Linked DNA regions of Homo sapiens. The protein of the gene in region 4 purifies or fractionates together with the protein of the main gene of each other region. This does not show direct contact. Each region holds a gene or a part of one and is shown on either strand. Other genes may lie near its edges.

Evidence for each region. The genes of interacting proteins can lie anywhere in the genome.
Region 1: the proteins of CELA2A (region 4) and ARID3B purify together in Homo sapiens (affinity purification with mass spectrometry; one large-scale study listed by BioGRID and IntAct). This does not show direct contact.
Region 2: the proteins of CELA2A (region 4) and YLPM1 purify together in Homo sapiens (affinity purification with mass spectrometry; one large-scale study listed by BioGRID and IntAct). This does not show direct contact.
Region 3: the proteins of CELA2A (region 4) and ARID3A purify together in Homo sapiens (affinity purification with mass spectrometry; one large-scale study listed by BioGRID and IntAct). This does not show direct contact.

Annotation. Positions count from the first base shown.
Region 1 is NC_000015.10:74,575,351-74,579,947, forward strand, and holds part of ARID3B (AT-rich interactive domain-containing protein 3B), read left to right. Parts: intron 1-4,597. UniProt on the Homo sapiens protein: Transcription factor which may be involved in neuroblastoma growth and malignant transformation. Favors nuclear targeting of ARID3A.
Region 2 is NC_000014.9:74,761,523-74,766,843, reverse strand, and holds the start of YLPM1 (YLP motif-containing protein 1), read right to left. Parts: upstream 3,529-5,321; 5' UTR 3,355-3,528; coding exon 2,482-3,354; intron 1-2,481. UniProt on the Homo sapiens protein: Plays a role in the reduction of telomerase activity during differentiation of embryonic stem cells by binding to the core promoter of TERT and controlling its down-regulation.
Region 3 is NC_000019.10:960,166-964,762, forward strand, and holds part of ARID3A (AT-rich interactive domain-containing protein 3A), read left to right. Parts: intron 1-4,082; coding exon 4,083-4,266; intron 4,267-4,597. UniProt on the Homo sapiens protein: Transcription factor which may be involved in the control of cell cycle progression by the RB1/E2F1 pathway and in B-cell differentiation.
Region 4 is NC_000001.11:15,459,287-15,463,883, reverse strand, and holds part of CELA2A (chymotrypsin-like elastase family member 2A preproprotein), read right to left. Parts: intron 2,324-4,597; coding exon 2,226-2,323; intron 1,152-2,225; coding exon 1,023-1,151; intron 499-1,022; coding exon 362-498; exon of another isoform or gene 136-361; intron 1-135. UniProt on the Homo sapiens protein: Elastase that enhances insulin signaling and might have a physiologic role in cellular glucose metabolism. Circulates in plasma and reduces platelet hyperactivation, triggers both insulin secretion and degradation, and increases insulin sensitivity.

The DNA of each region.
Region 1 (4,597 bases), on a different chromosome or scaffold from region 4:
CACTAGACTAGGAGCTCCTCAAGGAGGGCCACTTTGTCATTCTTTCATGTCCCCAGTGCTAGCACAGGGCCAGGCAGGAAGGTGCTCAGGACATGTTTGCTGTGTGAGCAGTCTTGTTGGTTTTCCTGGCTCAGATTGCAACATGCAGGGTATTCAAGCTGCCTTGAGGTTTGGGTGCATCTGTGTCCTTCAGCCAGCTGCCCCGTAATTGAGAGTCAGCAGTAGAGAACAGTCTTTGCTGCATATCCTGCTGTTCTGTGGCAACTGGGACTGCCAGATTGCCATCTAGTATATTTCTGAGTGAACCCAAAGCAGGAGTGAGTGACTCCCTTTGATAATGTCACTTTATGATTCTTCAGGTCCTGAGTAAATCTTTGTCCTGTCTTCAGCACTTACGTCAGGTATTTCACTGTTTGCTGGCATTACCAACAGAAGGGAAACGGTTCTGTCTGCCACTTGTTACTTTAATAAAAGGTTTCTCAGCCTCAGCACTGTTGACTTTGGGATGGGTAGTCCTTGTTGTGGAGACTGTCCTGTGCACTGTAGGATTTTGTTTTTAATTTTGAGACAGGGTCTCACTCTGTTGCCTCAGCTGGAGTGCAGTGGTGCGATCATAGCTCACTACAGCCTCAAAGTGCTGAGCTGAAGCCTTTCTCCTGTTTCAGCCTCCTGAGTAGCTGGGACTATAGGTAGGCACCACCATGCCTGGCTAACTTTTTTGTTCTGTAGAAATGAGGTCTCACTATGTTGCCCAGGCTGGTATTGAACTCCTGACCTCAAGTGATCCTCCCACCTCGGCTTTTCAGAGTGCTGGGATTACAGGTATGAGCCACCGCACCTGGTTACTGTAGGACGTTTAGCAGTATCCATGGCCTCTATCCACTAGATACCAATATCAGCCCCTCAGTCACAACAACCAAAAATGTCTCTAGATGTCATAAATGTCCCCTGGAGGGCAAAATTGTCCCGTTGAGACCCTCTGGCATGGAAAGATGAGAAAGAGAATAAAGATGTAAAATATCCTCTGCAAGAAAAACTCTTAGCTGAGTGTGGTGGCTCACGCCTGTAATCCCACCACTGTGGGAGGCTGAGGTGGGAGGCTCAGGTGAGTCTCAGTAACATAGTGAGACCTTCTCTCTACAAAAAATGAAAACAAAATTAGCCAGGCATAGTGATGCATGCCTGTAGTCCCAAGCTACTTGGGAGGCTGAGGTGGGCAAATTGCTCGAGCCGGGGACTTGGGGGCCGTCATGGAGGCCAACATTGCGCCACTGCCCTCCAGCCTGGCCAAAAAGTGAGACCCTGTCTCAAAAAAAAAAAAACTTTTTATGAAAATCATCTTACCTCCAGTCAGGTACATGAGAGCAAGCCGTGTTAGGTAGCATTGTTTCCTGTGACTGAGTGCCAAAGGAGTGAGTGCTGGGGCCTCACCCTGGCCTGCAGTGCAGAGAAAGGCTCTGAGAAGAGCTGTGGCTCTAGTGTATCAGACCCAACCATGGAGGTGGAGGAAAAAATGCTGTGACACATGTGGCCCTGGTGTAGCTGGAAGAACCCTTGTTGATGGCCCAGAGCCAGGGGCCATCCTGGATGGGTCAGCTGGCATGAGACTCTGAAGAGCCATGTTTGCCCAAAAAGCGCTTCAGTCTGTAGATATAGCTGAGTTATTGAAGGCAAAATATTGGCTTTCAGGAAACTTGCCGTGGCAGTGTATAGTTGGGCTAGAGAGGAGAGACTGAGGCAGGAAGATAGTGTAGAGGTTGTTATTCCCAGCGATCTCCTTTCTAGAAAACTCTTATCTGGTAGTCCGAACTAGAGTGAGTGGTTCAGGAGGGTTGGGAGTGGGGCATGGTGGCTCATGCCTATAATTCCAGCACTTTGGGAGGCCTAGGTGGGAGGATCACTTGAGACCATGAGTTTGAGATCAGCCTGGGCAACGTAACAAGACCCCATCCCTGTAATTTAAAAAAAAAAAAAAGAAGATGTAATCCCAGCTACCCAGGAGGCTGAGTCAGGAGAATCACTTGAACCCGGGAGGCGGAGGTTGCAGTGAGCCAAGATCGCACCATTGCACTCCAGCCTGGGTGACGAGCGAAACTCCATCTCAGAAATAAAAAAGAAGAAGAAAATTTTAAAAGAGGGGTGGGAGCAGATTGCACTTTTATTTTAATTAATTATTTTATTTATTTTTGAGACAGGGTCTCACTCTATTGCCCAAGCTGGAGTGTAGTGGCGCAATCATGGCTCATCGCACCCTTGACCTCCCCAGGCTCAGGTGATCCTCCCACCTCAGCCTCCTGAGAATCTGGGCCTACAGGTGTGCACCACCACACTCAGCTAATTTTTCTGTTTTTTTGTGTGTGTGTGTGTGGAGACGAGGCCCTTATGTTGCCCAGGCTGGTAGCAAATTCCTGGGCTCAAGTGATCCAACTGCCTGAGCCTCCCAAAGTGCTGGGATTACAGGCATGAACCACCACACCGTGCTGGGCCTCAGATTACAGTTTTAATCATGTGAGGCTTGCTGTCTTTGTTCCTTTTTTTGAGACAGAGTCCCAGTCTGGAGTTCAGTGGTCGATCTCAGCTTACCGCAACCTTCCCATCCCGGGTTCAAGTGATTCTCGTGCCTCAGCCTCCCAAGTAGCTGAGATTACAGCCATGCACCACCATGCCTGGCTAATTTTTATATTTTTTAGTAAAAACAGTTTCACCATGTTGGCCAGGCTGGTCTCAAACTCCTGGCCTCGAGTGATCCGCCTGCCTCCGACTCCCAAAGTACTGGAATTACAGACATGAGCCACCGCACCTGGCCTGTCTTTTTTTTGTTTTTTTTTGTTTTTTTTGTTTTAAGCAAAGTCTCCCTCTGTAGCCCAGGCTGGAGTGTAGTGGCACCATCTCGGCTCACTGCAACCTCCACCTCCTGGGTTCAAGCTATTCTCCTGCCTCAGCCTCCCAAGTAGCTGGGATTACAGGCATGTACCATTGCACCTGGCTAATTTTTTGTATTTTTAGTAGAGACAGGATTTCACCATGTTGGCCAGGCTGGTTTTGAGCTCCCAACCTCAGGTAATCCGCCCGCGTCGGCCTCCTAAAGTGTTAGGATTACAGGCATGAGCCACCGAGCCCGGCTGTCTTTGTTCTTAACAGAATGGTGAGAACAAGGGCCCTTAGACATTTGTGACTTGTCACTTGTGGAGTGTCTGGGGGACACAGGAGGCAGATCTTGCTAGTTGGGACCAAGGAAAAGCCTCATAGACCTCAGCAGCAGGTCAGGGACTTGGCCTCCATAGCTAATATGAAAGGTAAGCAGTAGATATCACAGGAGTCACTGGAAATAGCCTGAGTTAGCCTGGACAACATAGTGAGACCCTGTCTCTACAAAAAAAACATTTTTTTTTAATTAGCTGAGTGTGGTGGCATGCGCCTGTGGTCTCAGCTACTTTGGAGGCTGAGGTGGGAGGATCACTTGAGCTTGGAAGGTCAAGGCTACAGTGAGCTGAGTTCATGCCATTGCACTACAACCTGGGCAACAGAGTGAGACCTTGTCTCAAAAAACAAAAGAAAGAAGGAAAGGGAAAGGGAAATGCAAGGAAGAAAGAAAGAAAGAAACGAAAGAAAATAGCCTGAGTTTGAAAGGCCCGGAGACACCCAGGTGGGCTGTGAGAGGGGCCAGCAGCTTTGACACAGCAGGCTGTGCCCACAGAGGAAGCAGACAGCTCTGAGGGATGCAGCACACAGCAGGCCGCCCCGAATGACCGCAGCTGCAGGTGATAAAATGGCTGTCCAGTGGGAGACAGGGACGGGCCATAACTGCTGCTTTGTGCTGTATCTCTTGCTTGTTAACATGTTTGGGTGAATTGACTGCAACAGATGGGCCTTTCAGCCCTCAGCACCTTGGTTTCTAGGCAAGACCGGGGTGACTTGCACCTTGGCGACCCCCTCCCCTCCCTGAGCAGCAGAGCAACCTGCGCATAAAGAAGCCTGAGAAGATTGGAGTGGGACGAGGCGCAGTGCCCTGTGGGGGTGGAAAGAGCTCTGGACTGGCAGTGCAAAGCCAGGGCTAACATCCCTTCGTTCTCCTGATCTTGAGCACATCCTCCCCACTCTGGTGGCCACAGTTTCCTTATCTATTGAATGAGAGGGTTCAATTAGTGTCATCTTGGAAGTTTCTATTGTCTGTATTGTGTGTCCATGATTGTGTCTATCGAGCTACCCTTGATGAACAAAAAATAAAAGAAGAAAAGCCCCTTTAGCAGTTTTCTATCAAAGTAATTGTATGAAACATCACCAGGAATCTCCGAGACCAAATGCTTCTCTCCTGTCCTTGCTGTGTAATATATTTCCTCTTTTGCTGACTGAAGCCAAATTCAACTAAGCAAGTTGCCCTCGATTGTCCCCCACCACCCTATTCCCGCCAGAATATTTCTCTAGAAAAGACTGGTTAGGTTTAGAACTCTGATGCCCCTTTGGGCTCACCTGTTGCCGTGTGTGTGTGTGTGTGTGTGTGTGTGTGTGTGTGTGTGTGTGTGCGCGCGCGCGCACACGCAAAAAATACACACGTTTCAGCTGGACGCATTGGCTCATGCCTGTAATCCCAGCACTT
Region 2 (5,321 bases), on a different chromosome or scaffold from region 4:
ACTTGACTAAGAATGTAGGGATGAAATGACATAAGATCTAAGATTTGCTTTAAAATATTTCAGCAGAGGCCAGGTGTGGTGGTTCATGCCCATAATCCCAGCACTTTGAGAGGTCAAGGCAGTGTACTGTTTGAGCTCAGGAGTTCAAGACCAGCCTGGGCAACATAGCAAAACCCCGTCTCTACCAAAAAAAAAAAAAAAAAAAAATAGCCAGGCATGGTGGCATGCACCTGTAGTCCCAGCTACTTGGGATGGCTTGAGCCTGGGAGGCAGAGGTTGCAGTGAACTGAGACTATGCCACTACACTCCACCCTGGGTGACTGACAGAGCAAGACCCTGTCTCAATATATATATATGCAACAATAATAAAAAAGGCCTAGGTGAAGTAAACATGGCAAAATCTTGATAGCTGTTGAATCTCAATGATGGGTATGTATGGGGAATCATACTTTTTTCTCTATTTTGTGTATTTTAAAAATATTTCACGATAAGAAATTTTGAATGACACATTCCAAAAACAAAATATGAATCAAAGAATAATAAATATGTAGAAGGATTGCCAGAGACTGGTACTGGCATGAAGAAATATTTATCATCTAATAAACCAACATATCCTAAGTCTAGAACATGACAACTCTCGTATTTTATTCAACAAATCTGTGGAGAGCCTACAATTTGCAAGGCACTGTCCTAGGTGCTACGGTAATAAGAAGATAAGTAAGATAATTCCTGTCTGCAAGGGACTTACAATCTGAAGAACAGAACCAAACCAGATGGGTGAGCACAAGCAGGGCTTCATGGAAACCTTGATATTTGAGATATGCCTTGAAAGCAATACAACTCTAAGGGGAAACAGAGGGTTGAGGAGGTTAGGATGAATTCTAAAAAGAAGAAAGAAAGCCACAGGCTTCAAGGCTCTTCTTGATCTGGTCTATGTGCACCACAAGTCTCATTTTCCACCACTCTGCCTCTCACCAAAGAATTGCAGGCACTGAATATTCAAGACACTGAGTTCATTACAGAAAAGGGTACAAAGGCAGAAAAGTAAAAGCACTGTTCATGGTAACTATACATATTAAGGCCTGATCTGACACACACACTCCTCCCAAAAAAAGCCAAAAATACAATTATTTTGTCTCTCTGTAAGGTCAGAAAAACAGTCTAGTAGAGTGAGAATATAAATGTCCTATTTTGGCTCAGACTAACTGAGAATGTTTGACAACAAAAGCACTAAAGACTTCAGAGTGGGGTGGGAAAGAGGACAGAAAGTCTGTCTCTATAATAGAGCAATCTGGGGAAAATAAACTGGTGAGATGGTACAAATTTGATGTAAGCCAACAGAATCATTATTCTACTACTTTATTTCAGCATCCCAAGTGTTTTCTCCAGAAGATGTGCCAAGCATCATTTCTTAAAACAACTTGCTTCTGTTCTTAATTTCTAATGCCAAACCACCGTAAAATTATAATACTGCATCCCTATCTTTTGGAAATCTTTTATAGGTAAATCTGAGCGTTTATATTACAAGATTCTCTTTTTTCCTTAGTGAATCTAAGGTAAATTAGTAATCGCTGAAAAAGTGTCTACTTTAGGAAATCATAACAATTGATTTATTCTGCTTTAGTTTGACCTTCCCTCTCTCAAGGGGGAACTCGTTTATTACTGTTACCCTGTCAATTTGTCTGTTCTGCGGGATAAGAATGGCTGACTCTCTCATGAAAAGATATCACCAAACTTTTTTTACGTTGGCCAAATTGCAAGGCTGTTTCTTTGGAGTGAATGGTAATGACAATGAAACGCAGAAAATTGCTCATTATCTTAAAACAATCTTTAAATAATATGAGAAAAGGATGTCTGGGTCAATTCCTAAAATGGACCAATCGATCCCCAAAAGGGTCTCGGGACTCATCTATGTATTGTATATGTACCTATAAGCATAATTAGGATGCTCCTGGTAAGACAAGATTTCCATCCTTTTTCTGAAACCTCTTAATTCAGGAAGCTGACAACTATCCCTGGCCCCTAAGTAATATTTTTAAAAGAAGCTAACTAATCATAAAGTTTACAAACATTCAAGTGTCAGCCCTTGGCGAGGCCTCTTTTTCATGCTTTCTCTCAAATGGAAACTTTCGTTTAAAATACAATTTTAAAACAAGACCCTCTGCAACAAAATCTATTTGCAACAGCAACAAAATCTAAGAGGATGGTCAAAGAAACCAAGGAATGTATCTGAGAGGTAACTTTTGAGCCACCCCACCACTGTATGTAATCCATACACATCTACAAACGCTGTTTTTTTGGTAATTCACATCTAGCTAATTAAAAAGCTGAGCTGTCAGCCCTCTGACTCTTACGGAATCCTTTGGAGTGTTAGCTAGTCATTGTGTGTTGGAATTAGACTAACCACTGGTTAAAGCCCTGAGGCCTGCTCATTCAGGGCCCTCTAGGTGAAAGATGAGGTTCAGGCAGATGCTTTCTTACCTGTGGAGTCATCGTAGAGGGATCTGGCTCAGGGGCGGCTTGCTGCTGTTCAGTACTCTTGTTTTTGGCCCCACTCTCCAAAGGCTCTTGCTGGACAGTTGTCTTATTTCCAGGGGGGGCGGACGGTGGTGGTGGAGCTAGTAGTTGGGATTTAGAATGGCCCTGGGAGGGGCGGGAAGGAGATGCCTGAGAAGAGGGCAAGTAGGACTGGGAATGGCTCAAATAGGATTGCGAGGAAGAGGAGGAGGATGAGTAAGAAGGGGTGGGCGCCAGGTAGGATTGGGAAGGTGGGGACTGCGAAGGGGACGGCTGAGCAGGAGGCAGGTAGGGCTGAGATGAGGTCGGGGGGTAGTAAGAGGGTGGCGGCTGAGGTGGGGGCATGTAAGACTGAGATGGGGGCATATAGGACCCAGGCGGCACAGGGGGAGATTCAGGGGGGGATTCCAGCTCCATTGGAACCAAACCAGGAGGCCCGTCTCGTTGGTGGTGGAGCATCTGGTGTTTGTACTGCTGCTGCTTCTGATAGCTGAGGGCCGGCCCGGGTGGCGGGGGCATCGGTGGCGGTGGCGGCTGCCAGTCTCCGTAGCCGCCCCCCGGCATCACTGGCGGGGGCGGCAGAGGGGGCGGAGGAAGGTGGTGGGGCTGAAGCACGCACTGCATTTGCTTCTGGTGCATCTGCTGCAGCTGCTGGAGCTGCGCCAAGTGCTGTTCGCGGAAGCTCATGAAGCCCGAGGAGGAGGGGGCCGCGGGAGTCGTCGAGCTCGAGTACCCGGGCCCCGGCGAGGCCTCAGGAAGCGCCACTGGCGGCGGCGGTGGGACCGGTGGCGGCGGATAGTGGCTGCTCCCGCCATACCGGCCCCAATTCGGGTACATATCGAAAAAGAAGGCGCAGGGCTCGTCCTGGCGCCGTTACTCGTCGCAACCGACCTCCAGGAGCCGCGGCGGCGACGGCGACAGCCGGAACTCGCGGCGCCTACAGGCCCCGGAGCGTGTAAACGGAGCGCGCCAGTGCGCCGGCGCTCCCGAGCTGGGCCCGCGACCGGGAAGGCGGGGACGCGACTTGGGCGACTACGTCTGCGCAGTAACCACCGAGAGGAGAACAAAGGCGAGATAGAGCGGTCCTTTACTTGGCGACTCGTGGTTGCCATCTTCCTTTGGGTTCAGATAATGTAGGCTCCAGTAGAATGTTCTCATAGAACTGAAAAACCATAGAGTCTCACAGCCGAAAGAGGTGGTAGAGATCCTATCGCTCCACGGGTTCATTTTTGAATGAAAAAAAAAAAAGGTTCCATTCACAATAGCAACAATCGCAACAACAACAAAAAAACATAAAGCAACTAGGAAAAACTCTAACAAGAAAGATGTAGGACTTATATGTAGAAAGCTACAGAGTCATAAAGAAGCATATCCAAGTAGGATGAAATTAGACTTCAAATAATGGAGAGGCTTACCATGATCCTGGGTGAAAAGAGGAAAAATTGTAAAGATGTCAGTTTCTCCCAAATTAAATGAATAGACCTAACTCAATTCTCCCCAGAAATTCAACTGGGAACAAAGCTGTGAAGAATGGAAAGGTGTTTTCAAGGCAGAGTGTAAGATTACACCAATTCCTGCAGACATATAGTGAGTAACATCTGCAGGAATTGTAGAAGGGGAGAAATGGAATTTTTTAGACTGTCTCAACACATATAAATCGGTGTTGCAGAATCTCAGAGCAAAAGCAAAGAGAGCAAAAACCAGATACAAAGATGGTCTAAAGACAACCTGGAAGATAATCTTCCAAAAGCTCTCAACGTAATACCAGACATAAACTCTTACTTTAGCTTGAGTGAATCACTAAAAAGCAAAGCTAATACACTGAATTCTTTTGGGTGTGTGGGGGGGGGCGGGGGGAGGGAGAACTGTGAGAATATTGTGTCAGTGCATCACTTGAGTAACATGCAAATAATTGACCTTTCTTCCATCTTAGCAACCCAGATCTTCACCTCTCTCAGGAGGTGAATGTGAATGGAAAGTGGAGCAGCAAGGCATCCTTCAAAAGGAAGAGCTTCTGTTTTCAAATAGAAATTTAGTTATGTTTCTTTTAACTTTTTATTGAAGTATAACGAATATACAGAAAATTACATGTCAAAAGACAAAATTACAACAAATTTAGTTTAAAGATCTTAATTAACTTTTACCTGCTATTCTAGAATTGGGCAACGTCTCATTCTATAAAGCAGAAACAGTGTTCCAATGAGCAGAACAATCGGGATAATTTCATAGACAGAAAAGAAACGCAGAGGCAGGGCGCGGGGGCTCACTCCTGTAATCCCAACACTTTTGGGAGGCTGAGGCAGGCAGATCACCAGGTCAGGAGATCAAGACCAGCCTGGTCAACATGGTGAAACCCCATGCCTACTAAAAATACAAAAAGTATCCAGGCGTGGTGGTGCTCACCTGTAATCTCAGCTACTCAGGAGGCTGAGGCAGGAGAATCACTTGAACCCAGGAGGCAGAGGTTGGAGTGAGCTGAGATCGTGCCACTGCACTCCAGCCTGGGTGACAGAGCGAGACTCCATCTCAAAAAAGAAAAAAAAGAGAGAAACAGAAAACTAAAAGTGGATTGTTTGTTTCAAAGTTTCTTTTCTTATAAGGTTAAAGCAGAGAGGACTTCTTTATCATGCTGGCTAAAAATGGACTGTTTGCAGACTTGGCTATTATTTCTCTCTCTCCTGGTTTATTGAATGGTCAGATAAAGATTTTAATTTTGGCATGGCAACATCAATAAACTCCATTTTGGTTTGTTCTGTTGGGCCTAATGCCCAACTTGCTATAAATTTTATTTAACACATGTCTTA
Region 3 (4,597 bases), on a different chromosome or scaffold from region 4:
TGAGCCCTCTGCCCCCACCCCGCTGGAGGGAGGTCACAGAAACAGGGCTGTAGGAGGGGCCCTACTGGCTCCAGGTATGTCGGGGCGGTGGTGAGCACCCCGTGGCTGGAGGCATCCAAGGCTCCTAAATCGGGAGGGACTTCAGGGGTGTCTTGGGGGGAAACACATCCTGCCATGGAGGTTTGACGCGGGAGGCACGCCTGTGAGTCTAAGGGGTAGGTCCCTTGGTGGGGGGCAGGGCAGTCTCAGGGCCCCAACCCAGAACAGACAGTCCAGGTCATCTCCTTAGCATCCAGGGTGCAGTGAAGTGGGGGTCCCCACTACTGGGTAATGGGGGAGTGGAACCAGCCTCTGTGTTTAGGGAGTGGGGTCAGATTCGGGCTGGCCAGGTGGGTGCAGGTGCGGCAGGACAGAAGCCCCCCGCCCGGCCGCGAGATGGCTTAGAGTCTAATGATCTCATGGCGGCCAATGCGACATTTGAGTCCTGGCCCCTCCCCTCTTCCCACCAGGGCCTCAGTTTCCCCATCTGTAAAAACGGGCCACAAACAGTCCCTGCCCAAAACTCAGTGGCCAGCAGGTACCCCAGATGTGCTGAGTGCAGGGCCGCTGTTTACTGTGCACACTTATTGGGCACCAACGGTATACCAGGCTCTGTGCCCCCAAAGTCTCCTGGCCTAGAGAGGGCAGGTCTGGGCTGGTGTCCAGGTGGGGAAACTGAGGTCCAGACACAAGACAGACTCAGACGACCAAGGGTAGCCGGGGTGTCCCAGCGGCCATTCCCAGGCCCCACCCCAGCTTAGAGTGACCACGGGGCAGAGAGAGTGCGGCAAGGGCTTCCGTCTCGCCTCCAAGTCCTCGTCGGCCGGAGAGGGTCCTAGGAGCGTCTGCTGCCAGGTAGGAGCCGCCCCAACCCCCCTGGACACTCCTCTAGGGCAGGGAGCTAGCTCCGATCCCCACTGTTCAGACGGGGGAGGAGGCCTTGGGGCCCACAGAGGTCGGAAGGGGTGGGGCAGAGGGCTCTGTCCCTGCACTTGGGGCCGTCACAGGGGCCCGCTGTGTCCCAGCCTCCGCCCACCCCTCCCCTGGCTTCTATAAACACAGGCCCCAGACCCGCCACTGCCAGCCGCCCGGAAGGGAAGGAGGAGGAGGGTTGTGGGCCCCCTGGCCCACACTGCCCAGCGGCCTCCGAGTTAACCCCTCCCGTGCTGGGAACAGAGGATCCAGACCCGGGACCTGGGCGGGGGCCCCTCCTGTGTTATCCTCCAAGGCCAGGCTTGACCAGGGCCCACTGCCCCCTGTGAGGCTGGACAGATCCTCCCCATGACCCTTTATCATCCTGTTCGCACCTGCTCAGCCCTGACCACTCTGCTGTGGGGCTCCGAGCTCCTGGGTCCAAAGCCAACCCGTTTTGCTGTTACCCGTGCCTGGTACAGTGCCTGGTGTCCTGGGGGTACTTAGAAAGCACGGTGAGGGCTGGGCATGGTGGCTCACACCTGTAATCCCAGCACTTTGGGAGGCCGAGGCAGGTGGATCACTTGAGGTCAGGAGTTCAAGACCAGCCTGGCCAACATGGTGAAACCCCGTCTCTACTAAAAGTACAAAAATTGACCAGGCGTGGTGGCAGGCGCCTGTAATCCCAGCTACTTGGGAGGCTGAGGCAGGAGAATTGCTTGAATCCAGGAGGCAGAGGTTGCAGTGAGCCGAGATTGCAGCACTGCACTCTAGCCTGGGTGACAGAGGGAGCCCCCGTCTCAAACAAACAAAAAGCAGGCATGGTAGGCTGCTCATGAGTGTGGGTGAGATGGGGGCCCGTGGCACGTGGGGCCGTGAGGGTTGGTGTCCAGCTTTACCTCCCTCTCCAAGCTGGGAATTCCTACAGGACAGGAGACAGCGAGCTCCTATGCGTCCCTCAAAACCCAGCCTCAAAGCTCCCTCTTCCTTGGCTTCCTCCAGGAGCTTCCTGCTCTGTAATGGGGGCCCTTGGAGCTGAGAATCCGTCAGGTGAACCTGCCCATCACCCTAGACTTCACAATCTTCCTCTCCTTCACTCCAGACAGAGAGAAATAATTTTTTTTTTCCCCTGTGTCACAAAGTAAAAAACTCTAACTAAATTTCTCAGAATTCTCTGGGGGCTAGAAGTGAGGGAGGGGTCCTGACCACACCCTCTCCCCTCAGCAGCAGCAGCTGGACCACCTGACCTGCTGTTCCCTGACAACCTCCCCACCCTTCCTTATCTGGGCCCCACGACGGGCCCTGGTGATGCTCCCAGCTCCTTCTGTAAACATCCTCCTCCCGCCCACTGCAGAGCCAGGGCGTGGCCCTGGGAACCAACCCTCTGCTGCTGATCCTTTTTTTTTTTTTTTTTTGAGACAGAGTTTTGCTTTTGTTGCTGAGGCTGGAGTGCAATGGCGGGGTCTCGGCTCTCTGCAACCTCCACCTCCCAGGTTCAAGTGATTCCCCTGCCTCAGCCTCCTGAGTAGCTGGGATTACAGGCGCCCGCCACCACGCCCGGCTAATTTTTGTATTTTTAGTAGAGACAGGGTTTCTCCCTATTGGCCAGGCTGGTCTCGAACTCCTGACCTTGGGTGATCCGCCCGCCTCAGCCTCCCAAAGTGCTGGAATGACAGGCTTGAGCCACCGCGCCCGGCCTGATGCCGTTACTTTTACTTTGCAAACTCTGAGGCCTAAACTGGTGTCCCGAGTGGGGCCGGGCGGAGGCTCTGGGCAGGTTTCCGGGCCGATCCTGCAGCTGAAACCCGGCGCGGCTCCTCTCGCCCAGGCTGTAAAGTGGGTTTCAGGTGGGATCGGGTCTGAGGCCCGTCTTCCTCCAACCTGGGATCTCCTCCATTCACTGGGGGTTTTGCAACCTGGGAAGGGCCTGGAAGTGGCGGAGGGTGGTGGGAGGTGTTTCTGGAAGGTCAGACACCGGGGGTTCCGGGGGTAGCAGGCCTCGACCAGGCAGAGGGCCGGCTGCTCACTCAGGGCTGCACCCGCTCTCCAGCCAGTCACATCCCAGAACCTCGATGTCCACGTCCCCATCCCTAACAGGGCGATGGGCGTCCCCTCCCACCCCATGGTGAGTGGGCAGCAGCTATGGCCTGGGCCACCTGCCCTCACTGGTCTTCACTGAGCGCCTACTGTATGCCACTGAGTGCTGGGACCCCACGTAGGCAGAACATGGGGTGGGGGCCACAGACTGTACACAATTGATCTCCTAAGTGCAGAATTTCACGGACAGAACGATAGGTTTAAGTGGGTCTTGCCTACTGTCAGGCCAGGGAGGGGCTGGGCAGAGGTGGAGCTGACATCTGAAGCCAGAGGCTCCTGGTGCAGGGGCAGCCTGGGAGAGCCCTGGAGGGGGCAGGTAGGGCTGGAAGGGCGGGGAGGGGCCACGTCTGCAGCCGGCTCCAGGAGTTGAGGGGCAGGAACCTGAGTCAGCCCAGCCGCCTCTTCTTCCTGGGCCAGCCCACCTACCGCCCTTCCCCTGCCTAGGCTAATCCTCCCCCTTTCCCTCCCTGGCATAGCGTAGCCCACAACCCTCTCCTCCTGGGCTAGCCCAACCCCCCATGTCGGGGCTAGCCCATCCCCTTCCCCTCCCTAGGCCAGTCCACAGCCCTCCATTCTCCAGACTTGAAATTGGGTAAGCCAGGCTTTACCCCTTGCCTGCCTGAGGCTGCAGAGCCCCTGTCAGTGTGGAGGGAACAGGCCTCTGGGAACATAGGCAGAGTTGTTTTGGCAGCTGCCGTGGTGTGTGGCGTGGAGAAGGAATAACAAAGATCCGGGCGTCTCCCGCACGTCCCTCCTCTCAGTAACCCTCCTCCCGAGGGCTGCGCTGTCCCTAAGCCCAGGTTACTGGTGGATAAACCGAGGCAGAGCTGCCCCCTCTGCACCCTCTCGAGCAGAGGTTCCCAGCCTGGATGATCCTGCACCCACAGAGGGCCCTGGGCAATGTCTGGAGACATCTGTGGTTGTCACAGCCTGGGCGGGGGAGTGCTCCTGGCATGGAGAGGGCGGAGGCCAGGACACTCGGCTCCCTGCAGTGCCCAGGTGGCCCCCAACCTCCCTCTCGCCCCTTCCCCCAGGGACACCTGTGAACCGCATCCCCATCATGGCCAAACAGGTCCTTGACCTGTTCATGCTGTACGTGCTGGTGACGGAGAAGGGCGGCCTCGTGGAGGTCATCAACAAGAAGCTGTGGCGTGAGATCACCAAGGGCCTCAACCTGCCCACGTCCATCACCAGTGCAGCCTTCACCCTGCGGACCCAGTGAGTGGCGGACGGTTGTGCCGAGGTCGGGCCAGGGCACTCTGAGCAGCCAGTGCAAGGGGCCTGCAGAAGAGGGAGGGGGTGGTGGGCAGCTGCAGAGGAGGGGGCAGTGGGCAGCCGCAAAGGGCACAGGGCCACACCGTGCGTCCAGGGCCCGAGAGCGTCAAGTAGGGGTGCGAGGACCACACAGTCTCTGGGGTTGTGCAATCAGGGGCCATTGCGAGGAACAGCATTGAGATGGAGGGAATGGGCAAAGGCCCAGCAGCTCTGGGGGCTGCTGAGCAAGTCCAAGGGAAGAACCAGGGATGGTGGTGCCACAGTGGGGTTTACT
Region 4 (4,597 bases):
TTTAGTAGAGACAGAGTTTCTCCGTGTTGGTCAGGCTGGTCTCCTGACCTCAAGTGATCCGCGGGATGGGCCTCCCAAAGTGCTGGGATTACAGGTATGAGCCACTGCGCCCAGCCAAATATTTGCATTTTACAGATGAAAAAAGTGCTGCATGGAGAGACCTAGTAATGTGTCCAAGGTGTCACAGTCATTAAGTGGGAGAGCTGACATTTGATCCCAGGCAGGCGTCAGCCTATGCCATCCCGTCTCTCCAAGGCAGCCACACACCCTGGGATGACAGGTGAGAGGCCCCGGCCAGACAGGGGTGACGTGAATCACCTCCCTTCCCTCCCAGGCCTGGGGGCTCCTGGCTCCCACTTACTCTGCAGCCTTCCCCAGCCCGTGACGTAGCAGGGGTAGTTGTTGGGTAGAATGGTGCCGGCAGGAGGGAGGCAGGCCAGCTGGATCTTGTCGGTGAGGGAGACGGGGTTAGCCAGTTTGAGCAGGGCAATGTCGTTCCTGGGTGAGTGTGGAGGCGAAGCATGAGGACCGGGTTGACTTTTCCTGCCCTGTGGGCTTTGGAGGGCTTGGAGACCTTGTCATCTTCCCTGTACCCTGTTACCCCAGGTTGCTCTGACTGGCAGGGCCCCAGGGCATGTTTGAAAATGCAGAGGGCCTTGTTGAAAGGGGGAAGGCAGGAGAGATTGTGTCCTACTCCAGGGACAGTCACAGGGTTGACAGCACTGTCCCTGTGTCCCCAGGACCTGGCATGAAGTAGATACATGCTCAGCGGACAGGGGCCCTGCAGGTGTAACTGGCAGCAAACCCAGGTCGCTCTGGCAGTCTTTGCTTCACCCTCCCCAGGTCACATCCCCACCCCAGACATCTTTGGAGCTGGTTCCACATCTAAGAGGCCAGAGCTCCTTCCCCCTCCCTGTAGAAGAAGCAGAGGGGGTGTGGTGTGGTTGAGACCCTTGCCTCTGTGAGACCCCCATCTGTTCCCTGACAACCTCACCCCCAAGTGCACCCAGACAGAAACGAACCCTTTGGAGATTTGGTTGGAGTTCCAGTCCTTGTGCACCACAATCTTAGAGACACTGACTGCCAGCGAGCCGGACTCCGCAACGTAGAGGTTGTGCCGGCCCAGCCCCACGCGGTAGGTCCTGGAGGAGCTGGGAGAAAGGGGGCCCAGGGAGAGGGTCACCTCCAGAGGCCTGGCTTTGGATAATGCTGGGGATAGACCCAAGTAACTGGCTGCTGCGTGAGCCACTAGATGGGACTTGGGGATCTTTCCTCCCCTGGGACAATCAGTTAGTTATAATAGGGCCTAAAGTATATAACCTAAGAACTATGATCATATAATAATTGTTACTATACTAACTATAAACTACAATATAAAATAAAAGTTATAATAACACAAACTCTATAGTTCTTATGGAGGGAATGAGATGAACACAGAGAAAACAGGAGTCATTTGCCCTCAAGGACATTTTTCCCACCTTTCATTTGCAGATGGGGAAACTGAGGCCCAGAGAGGCGTAACCTGGCCCAGAGTCCCACCGTTAGTGAGAAACCAGAACTACAAGCCAGGACTCCTGACTGTAGGCCTCTATTATTTTCCCCAATACCTCCTAGAGCTTATTATAAATCGGATGGGAGAAGGGATCACTCCTGGTAGGGAGTCACGCCGACCCGGCAGAAACTCCGGTGAGTTCCAGCTGTGATGAGCAGAGGTCACGGACAAAGAAGAGGATAAGTGAACAACGTTGCAGAACCTTGTGGGCCTTTATAATTCATCTATAATTCAGAATTAGCTTTCACTGAGCACTTACTAAGTGCCAGGCCCTTTGGTAAATCAACTCATTGAATTCACACTAAATTCTGTTACTCCATTTTTCTGCAGGTGATGGTATTGAAGCTTTGAGAAGTCAGTTAAGTTGTTCAAGGGAACCCAATTCCAGATCCAGAGGCCACATGTAGTTTCCCCAAGAGGGCAGAGATTGGGCCTTCCCCTCCTCTTCATCCTCCCTCAGTGCCTGCCTGGCACAGACACTCCATCCATGCCATGTACTGACATTGATGGGCCAACACACTGAACCATTGATTGACTACAGCTTGTGTCTCAGCCAGTATAGTGGTTATTTGCAAGGCTGCTTTATGTAGCATGGTTCAGGCCATTTGAGCCCCCAGCTCAGAAATGAGCACCAGCTGGTGAGCAGGCCAAGCGCCCAGGGAAAGGCAGTTACCTGATGCAGTGGGCAGCCGTCAGGACCCAGCTGTTGGCTATCAGGGACCCTCCGCAGGTGTGGTACCACTTGCCATTGGAGCTGTACTGCAGGGAGACCTGGGGAGAAGCAAAGGAGCTCTGTGGCTAGGTTTGAAAGAGCAGGGCCTCCCTGCACTCCAGTTTCCCAAGAACGGGGCTGGGACAAGGGTAAGGGGGAGTGAGGCAGTCGCCTCATGTGCACAACTTAAGGCAGCACCCAAAACCTCAGCCATCAAGATAAAAAACGTGTTAATGCAATCTACATGAAAAACAATCAGGCCAGGCATGGTGGCTCATGCTTGTAATCCCAACACTTCGGGAGGCCAAGGAAGGAGGATCACTTGAGCCCAGGAGTTTGAGACCAGCCTGGGCAACATGGTGAAACCCCATCTGATAAGGTTTGGCTGTGTCCCTACCCAAATCTCATCTTGAATTATAGTTCTTATAATCCCCATTTGTCGTGCGAGGGACCTGGTGGGAGGTAATTGAATCATGAGGGTGGTCACCTCCATGCTGTTTTCATGATAGTGAGTAAGTTCTCACAAGATCTGATGGTTTTATAAGGGTCTTTCCCCCACTTTTGCTCGGCACTTCTCCCTGCTACCGCTGCGTGAACAAGGATGTGTTTCCTTTCCCTTCTGCCATGATTATAAGTTTCCTGAGGCCTCCCCAGCCACGCTGAGCTATGAGTCAGTTAAACCTCTTTCCTTTATAAATTACCCAGTCTCAGATATGTCTTTATTAGCCGTGTGAGGCAGGACTAAATACATTGTCTCTACAACAAAAATAGCCCAAAATGAGCCGCTGGGTGCGGCGGTGCATGCCTATAGTCCCGGTTACTCAGAAGGCTGAGGTGGGAGTATTGCTTGAACCCAGGAGTTTGTGAACCAGCCTGGGCACCATAGTGAGAACTTGACCCTACCAAAAAAATTTTAAAATAAAATAAAATTAACAGAGTGAGACCAGGTCTTTAAAAAAAAAAAAAAAGAACTTTAAGGTGGTGACATTTGACACTGTTTTAGTCTCTAATGAAGCTGTTCCATGCCCTTCCTGTTCCTTCATTCCTCCTCCCCTGTCTTTCAATTCCCTGCCACGGCCAAGCAGAGGGGAGGGAGGTGACAGTAGGGCATGGACTGCTCTGATCGGGCTCCCTATAACTGTGGGGAACGATGACCTGTTTGTTGGCAGATGCCTGCTTTTCTCTGAACGTTGTTGTTTTTAATTAGCCATTTGGCATTTCTCGTTTGTGTGACATTAAGAGGTCTTAAAAAAGATGTTTAAAATTAGAAAAAGTGAAAAAAGATACTTAAAAGGATGTACCCCCCCCCCAATTTAAAAATGTGCTGAAACCATCGTACAGATGTGAAATTTAGCCCACATAATACGTATTATGTGTGGCCAGCAAAGTGTAGCTAAAGAGGTAGCACTGAACCAGATTTGAATCCTCATTCGCCCCCCGGGCTAACCCAGTGCCTTTGGGGAATTCTGTAACCTTTCCAAGTCCCAGTTGCCTTCTCTGGAAATGGGGAACATAAGCCACTGTGCAGGGCTCTCAGGGTGACTCATACTGTAATTAAGCCTGGGTGACAGAATGAGACTCTGTCTCCTGGAGAAGAAACAAAATTGCATTAAAATATCATTCATCTTCGTTAGTGAGGTTTTTTGTTTGTTTGTATTTTTTTTTTTTTTTTGAGATGGCTATCTATGTTGCCCATGCTGGTCTCAAACTCTTGGGCTCAAGCAATCCTCCTGCCTCAGCCCCTTGAATAGCTGGGATTAAAGGTGTGTGCCACTGTTCCTGGCTGGTTGCTGAGTTTTGTGCTACCCCCTTACATTTTGCCTCCAGAGTGAATGTCTTACTTGCCTCATCTGAGTCCCCACCCAGCTAGATCTGCCTTATTTCCGCAGGGAAACAGAAGCACAAAGCATAGGGACTCTTCATGGATTAACATTCACTGGTTCTCAAGGCAAGAATACTTTTGTGCAAGAGGGTGAGGAAGTATTTTTGTAGGCAGCAATGATTAGTTCTTAGCACAAATGCGCCCGGTGTTATGGGGCCCTGTAGCAGAGGGACTGTGGCCCTTCTTCCAAATTCTCAGGGAAAAAATACTGTGGGACTGTGAGAAAAGCAAAAGAACTGGCAAAAGCACACAAAGCCAAGTATATAAATTGTGAGGCTGGGTTGAGAGGCTCACGCCTGTGATCCCAGCACTTTGGGAGGCCGACGCAGGAGGATCACTTGAGCCCAGAAGTTCAAGACCAGCCTGGGCAACATAGTGAGACCCATCTCTAAAAAAAAAAAAAGAAACTTAACCGGGTGTGGGGGCATGCACCTGTGGTCTCAGCTGATAG